2 linked regions of the Homo sapiens genome follow. The protein of the gene in region 1 purifies or fractionates together with the protein of each later gene. This does not show direct contact. Each region holds a gene or a part of one and is shown on either strand. Other genes may lie near its edges.

Region 1 (3,752 bases):
ATTTTACAAATGTCTGTATTTAGCCAGTTCCTGTTTTCCTTTTGATGTAGCTGCAAGGCCACCAGCTATAGAAGGCCCCAAGTTATGCTAAGTCATCTGTTATGCTATAGATTATGTGACCTGTCACTGTTTGATTAATCGCCTTTGTTCTGCTTCTGTAAGTTTGCTTATAAATACCTCAGTCTGTCTTTGTTAAGGGCTCAGCCTTTTTGGATGTGAGTCTGCTGAACCAGTGCACCTAAATAAATCCTCCTGTCTCACCCATATCAGTCTCTCCAGTCCTCTAATTCCTGCAACACTGCCTGTGATTCGATTGAAGTTTGGGTGGTACCTGGCCTCGAAAGACCCCTGTGTCCCAAAGGAGATTTGAGCGGCCCCTCTTTATTTTCACTTCATAGCACAGCCAAGTGTAGCTCCGACCATAGAGGATGGGTTCGTTTTCAAAGTTGTCGTAGAATGTGTCTCGATACATCCGCTCCATCGGATTTCTGAAGGCACAAGAGAGAAACCGGCCCATGCAGGGAGCCCTCCCGGGAGTCCTCGGGGCTCATGTCCACTGAACACAGCTCCCAGGATGGCCCTGGGCCTCCCCGACCCCTCCACAGCCCTGAGAATTTCTGCTGCCTTCCCAGGCAGGAAGACTGAGGGGAGAGGAAGAGGAGGGGATGCTGGCAGGCGGGCTGGGGTGATCTCTCCCAGCTCGGGTCCAACTCTGGCCTTTCCAGGGGTACATTCCCCACCCTCCTAGTATTTCTGCCAACCCACTCCCCAACCCATTAGGAGAATGCAAAAGAGAATAAAACCCTTCACCCCTAAAAAATAGCTTTTAACCTTTCAGCTCAATTCCTTCCTGATGTTTCACTCTGCGTGTTAACATTATTTTAAAATCATGGTAGAACTGAATTCTGAGGCCCAGGCCACTCTTCTAAGTGCTGAGCGGGTGTGAGCTCACGTGAGGCTACCCTAGGCCTGCAGGGGCCATTCCCATCTTACAGAGGAGATGCCAGAGGCACAGAGAGGCGGGGTAACCTGCCGAGGCCACAGAGCTGGGGACGGATGGAGCAGGGGCCCCTTTCCAGGCCAGCCCTGTCCAGCCTCTGCATCACGGATCCTGTAGGAGAAAGCTGTTGGGGACTGGGCTCTCTTTTCACTAAATTTTAAAATCAGAGCATTTCTCCTCATCATTGCACTTTTTTCCCACATTCTCACATTCCATGTTACTGATCATGTTCTTTCTTTTTTTTTTTGATGAAGTCTCACTCTGTCGCCCAGGCTGGAGTGCAGTGGCATGATCTCAGCTCACTGCAACCTCCACCTCCCAGGTTCAAGCAATTCTCCTGCCTAAACCTCCTGAGTATCTGGGACTAGAGATGCGCCACCATGCCTGGCTAATTTTTGTATGTTTTTTAGTAGAGACGGGGTTTCACCATATGGGCCAGGTTGGTCTCAAACTCCCGACCTCATGATCCGCCCGCCTTGGCCTCCCAAAGTGTTGGGATTACAAGTGTGAGCCACCACGCTCAACCACTGGTCATGTTCTAAAAGATGAAGAGTGACCTTGGAGTGGAACCTGTCTGGGGACATCTGCTCACCATGGAGTCATCCTTGGATGACACGATTTATCATGTGCTTCAGAGACCATTCCTACCCCCGCACCCTCTCCTAAGACTTTGTATTTAAGCAAAGTAATTCTTACAGAAATTTCATCAAAACACTGAGAACAAAAATGCCTGATTGCTCCAATTACCCTTTGGTTCAATTCTCCCAGTTTCTGAGCTCAGGAGTGGCAGGAAGCACACAGAGGGAGCACCCTCCCAGGGCGGGGAGCACCAGTCCGGGCATGACTTTAAGGGAGAGTCTCAGCACGGGGCCTGGGCTGGTGCAGGTAGGGGAGGCAGCCCATTCAGAAGCAGCAGTGGGGTGACCACACAGCAGGACAAAGAGCCTGACTGGGATTCGTGTGGCAGGGGAGCCAGAGGGGAGGGAGCCCAGGGCTGGGGCAGGGGCGGGGGGAGGCCAGGGTTGAGGCCCAGCAGGACCACCAGGCAGGAAGGGGCAGGAGGGGCCCAGCAGGCAGAGTGGGCAGCGGTACCTGATCTGTGGATTCATGTTCAGCCTCTTAGATACGCTTGTCCCTGTCCCGCTCTTTTTTTGAAGCTCTGTGGTTTCACTTCCTGCTTACAGCGTCCTTGCAGTTGGACAGCCCTCCTTAAAGTGACCTCCCAGGGCCTTATGAGTCATGGCCCCTCCCCATTCCTGCTCAGGCATTGGTGTGGGAGGCCCCGGGGTGCTTCATGTTTCTCTGGCTCTGGCTCTGGCTCTGGTTTTCCCCGGACCCTTCCCGCTGGCAGAGGAACCTCCAATAAAGACAGGCTGCTCTGTCTTTATCTGTCCTGGGCAGGACCCAACGGAATTGCAAAGAGAAAGAGAAAGGCATTGCAGCCTGAGCCTGGGAGGCGGGTCCAGACCCAGCTGAGAGAGGGGCAGGTGCCCCGTTGCCTGGTGGTTGGGCAGGCTGGAGCCCCCTCTCCACCACCCCCTCCCCAGCCCTAATGTGTGCCCAGAGCTTTGAGCAGCACCACCCTGTTGAGTGAGGGGAGGTTTTGAGACTCCAGTGGGGAAGGAAGTGTGGACTCCGCACAGCACAAGGGAAGGCTTAGGTGTGCCTCGAGTTCCCAGCTGTGTGCTGGGTCCATGGCATGCGTCCCCTCTTCCAACCTCCCAGCTTCCAGAAGGTGGGGGGCAGGTCAGCCCCTCAGAGGGACTGCGATGTCTGCGACACCAAGGAAGGGAGAAGGGTGTCTATAAACAGGCTCACTGCCCAGGGACCTCTCAAGGGGTTCTTTGTGGGCCAAGAAAACGGGAAACACATACACACACAGCTTTCTGATTATTTAAGTCCATCTAAGCATATTTTGGAGGAATGAATGTACATTGAAATAATCTTCCTAAATAGATTCCTTTAAGGGGAGTTTGTTCCAGCTGGAGAAGTTGTGCTCTCTGTAGAGGCTCTGAACTCCTCTGGCTACGACGACGGGAATGCAGACAGGGAGGAGGATGCGTGGGTGGTAGGGGGAGCAGCAGCGCCCCTACCTGCACAGAAGCTTGTCCAACCTCTGCACAAAGCGGACTCCCAGTGGTTGTTTTTGGAAGGTGAGTTTTCTTTTCTTTCTTTTTTTTTTTTTAAATCTTCCCCAGTATAAATCTTTTAATTTAAAAGTAAATTTTATTGTCGAAAATGCAAACTTGGGGAGGGCAGAAAGATCACACACAGGGCTGTCACTTCACACCTGGGGGGTTGCTGGGAGCCGTCCAGAAGCGCTCCTCACTTCCCAGACGGTGCGGGGGCCGTCCAGAGGCGCTCCTCACTTCCCAGACGGTGCGGGGGCTGGGCAGAGGCGCTCCTTACTTCCCAGACGGTGGGACAGCCAGGCAGAGGCGCTCCTCTGGAAGGTGAAGTTTTCTGTTGCCGTCAGAAAGAGATGGACAAAGGATAAGACCATCGGTGGAAAATAAACAGTTCCGTTTATCAGAAACATACTTTGTAAAAGAAAATGTAATAATGACCCTAGACCAGGGAGGCATCCTCCAACCCAGCTGTAAGGCGGCAGTTAAGGCACAGTGGGGAAGGGACACCAGCTTTGCAGCCAGGCGACTCTGAGATCTGCCCCTTCCTTACTGTGTGACCTTGGGTGGTTTACTTAATGTCTCCAGGCCTCTAATTGCAGGCGTGAGCCACTTGCCCAGCCCAT
Region 2 (3,652 bases), 1.3 Mb from region 1:
CCCAGGCTGGAGTGCAGTGGTGCAATCTCCGCTCACTGCAACCTCCGCCTCCCAGGTTCAAGCAATTCTCCTGCCTCAGCCTCCCAAGTAGCTCGGATTACAGGCGCCCACCACCAAAACCAGCTAATTTTTTGTATTTTTAGTACAGACAGGTTTTCACTATGTTGACCAGGCTGGTCTTGAACTCCTGACCTCATGATCCGCCTGCCTTGGCCTCCCAAAGTGTTGAGATTACAGGCATGAGCCACTGCACCCAGCCTATTTTTTATTTTTTTGAGATGAGGTCTTGCTGTATAACTCGGGCTGGAGTGCAGTGATCTTGGCTTGCTGCAACTTCTACCTCCAGGGCTCAAGTGATCCTCCCACCTCAGCCTCTTGAGTAGCTGGGACTACAATGCATACACCACTATGCCCAACTAATTTTTTTTTCCTCCTCTAGAGACAGGGTTTTGCCATGTTGCCTACCTAGACTGGTCTCGAACTCCTGAACTCAAGCTATTTACCCACCTCGGCCTCCCAAAGTGCTGGGATTACAGGTGTGAGCCACCACACCCAGACCCTGGCTAAGATTATTTGTAAGAAAGCTTACATGGTACCAATTCTAACAAAGTAACTTCTCCTTTTACTCTACTCTCAAGGGAAACAGTTTTTCCAAATTCTCCACAATCTCTCCAGTTTGCTGAAGGTAGGATGAAGGTGGCGGCTGACAGTGACAAGAATTTAAACACAGCAAGGTCATGGAATACATTCCATTAATTAAGGCGGAGAGGGAAGCAATCAACATTCACTCCCCTAAATCAACAGTGGAATTAATTCCCTGAAGTGCTGCCTAGAAGAGTTAAATGTCCATGGCAAAGTCCTTGGGAAAGGTTTCAAGCCTCAGTCCAAGGGTCCCTTCCCTTCATCCACATTCTTAAAAGATCTACCCCTGAGTAAACTTTATTGAAGCCCCTGGCCTAGATGGGCTAAACATTCTTCCTAAGTGCTCCTGGAACACATCATCCATCTCTCTCTACCATGAAAATTCTCCATTCAAAAATCCATCTATCTCTACCACCGAAATTCTCCATCTACAAGTCCCATCTCTCTCTATCACAGAAATTCTCCATTTACAAGTCCTTCTCCCTCACCAGGCCATGACTTCCTGAGGGCAAGGACCCATCTTTCATCTTTTCTTTCTTCCTTAGGGCATGGCACAGAGTGGACTCTTACAAGAAACTCCAGGCCTAGAAAATCACAAACTCAGCTTGGTTCTGGTTTCTACAGCTACCTGGACTCAAAGACTTGCACCGCTCTCTGTGTAAATACTAGAAATGTTACAAATCTTTTTGCTTTTCTTTAAAAAAAAAAAAAAGTGTTTCTTCCCAATTCTTTAAAATAGAAATTTCAAAATGTAAATACTTTTTCTGTTTACTTTAAATCATTTGATTTTTTTAAACTTAATTTTAAAAATGGCCCGCACACAGCGTGGGAATGTCGGGGCAACCGTGAAACCGCACTCTGCCGGACCCTCTGGCTCTTCCCGTCGAACATACAGAGAAGGCTCTCTTAGATCTGTACCTCCCTCGCTGCATGCTGCCAGAAGATCACTACCCTCTCCATAAAAATCTACCTGGCAAATAGAGGCTGGAAGTCGTACAGAAATAATCATCAAGCCTGACAGTTCGGATGATTCTGAGGCCCAAATCCCTGCCTCCCAGGGTAACGTCAGGGCCAACTCTGGGGGTAGTACTGCTTTGACTGCTAAAATGATGCGGGGCCAGCATGTTGCTTGCTGAACTGGCTCCTTTATGAGAGAGATACATCATCAGAAATCAGGCGGCCCAATCTATGCCACTACTGGACATTAACATACTGTGGGTGACAGGAGAAAAGAGCAGGTGCCTGCAGCAATTTCCAGGTAACCCCATGTCTAACCTCAGCTAATCACAAGGCAGCACCAGGCCTCCCAGTAAGGGGAGGGGGAGTGGAGGTCAGAGGATCCAAAATCTGATGAGCAGAATAAATGTGTGACTTAAGAAAATAAAATTAGTCGGCCAGGCGCGATGGCTCACGCCTGTAATCCCAGCACTTTGGGAGGCCGAGGTGGGTAGATCACAGGGTCAGGAGATCGAGACCATCCTGGCCGACATTGTGAAACCTAGTCTCTACTAAAAATACAAAAATTAGCTGGGCGTGGTGGCATGCGCCTGTATTCCCAGCTACTCAGGAGGCTGAGGACGAGAATTGCTTGAACCTGGGAAGCGGGGGTTGCAGTGAGCCGAGATCGTGCCACTGCCCTCCAGCCTGGGCCACAGAGCAAGACTCTGTCTCAAAAAAAAAAGAAAAGAAAATTAGTCATTATCTAATATTCATGACCTATAACAACAGATGGATACATAACTGGTAAATGAATGAATGAAGATTATTTAATATTAATTTTCTATCTGTTACTGGAGGATTCTATAGCACAGGGCATTCGCAATCCCCTTTTATCTTATTATGAGAATAAACAAGAAGTTGGCAGAGACTGGAGAAATTCATCCCAACTGGTTTTTAGGACAGAAAGAGCTATGTTTCTGTAAGGCTGCCCTGCTATAAAGGTCAAGAATCTTCATTATAAGTTACCCAGGTCTACTACATACTTTTAACTCAATCCAGAAAAACAACAAGACATGACAGAGTGACCTGCAGGACTGAGGGCTGAACACCAGTTTGACTCACTTTAAAACATTCACAGCACTGTTTCAACTGAAGAAATTTGGTAGGTATCACGTATCATGTAAGATTCCTTGCAAAAGTTCCTCAGGGCACTTTCCCACCACATCAGAGACAGAATGGATTGTAAATGATAAAGTCATTATAAAATGGGAACACACCTCAACCACTTTCCTCCCAATACAGTGTGCTCTGGCCCAGGAGATTAGTCATTCAAACTCCAGGACATCATGTACAAATAGGTCAAAGTATAAAAAGAAAAAAACAAAACCTCCAGGAAACAGTCAGAAAACGCCCAAGACACCACCTTAGTCATAGCAAACTGTGTTTCAGCACCTGAATGAATTCTTACTCTATTTTTTAAATCACACCTTTCTGTGAATCCAAGAATGTTAAGCTTTTAAAGGCCAACCAGAATTGCCGGCACTAATTGGAGAGCAACACAGCTTTTCAGGCAGGATGTCTGATCCAAATTGACTCCCAAAGTCCAAACTTAAGACATCAGAATCAGTGTGCATCACCCATCATCATGGTCCAGAATGTTAGACGATAAAGGGCAAGAGAAGCTATCATTAAAAGTCTGAATATGTTACTTTTCAGGCTGTCTCTTTTCTGAATCTTAAGGATTTGTAAGTTGTGCAAGTTTTTCTAAAGATGAGCTGTTCAAAGTAAGTGCATAGTTTCTTATCTTCCAGAGGAAAGGTTTGTGGCTTAAACATGATCTCAGTACTATAGGGAAATAAAAACATTGTGGGGTAAAAAAAAAAAAAAAAAAAAAAAAAAAAAAGGCTGTGTATCCTATTTTCTGATTTCCATTCATTTACTTCTTTTTTTGTTTGTTTTTTGAGACTGAGTCTTGCTCTGTTGCCCAGGCTAGAGTGGAGTAGCAGGATCTCAGCTTCCTGCAACCTCCACCTTCCAGGTTCAAGTGATTCTCCTGCCTCAGCCTCCCGAG

Evidence for each region. The genes of interacting proteins can lie anywhere in the genome.
Region 2: the proteins of APOBEC3B (region 1) and TNRC6B purify together in Homo sapiens (affinity purification with mass spectrometry, with the first as the bait; one study listed by BioGRID). This does not show direct contact.

Annotation. Positions count from the first base shown.
Region 1 is NC_000022.11:38,980,811-38,984,562, reverse strand, and holds the start of APOBEC3B (DNA dC->dU-editing enzyme APOBEC-3B), read right to left. Parts: upstream 2,217-3,752; 5' UTR 2,110-2,216; coding exon 2,093-2,109; intron 489-2,092; coding exon 332-488; intron 1-331.
Region 2 is NC_000022.11:40,257,904-40,261,555, reverse strand, and holds part of TNRC6B (trinucleotide repeat-containing gene 6B protein), read right to left. Parts: intron 2,515-3,652; exon of another isoform or gene 1,188-2,514; intron 1-1,187.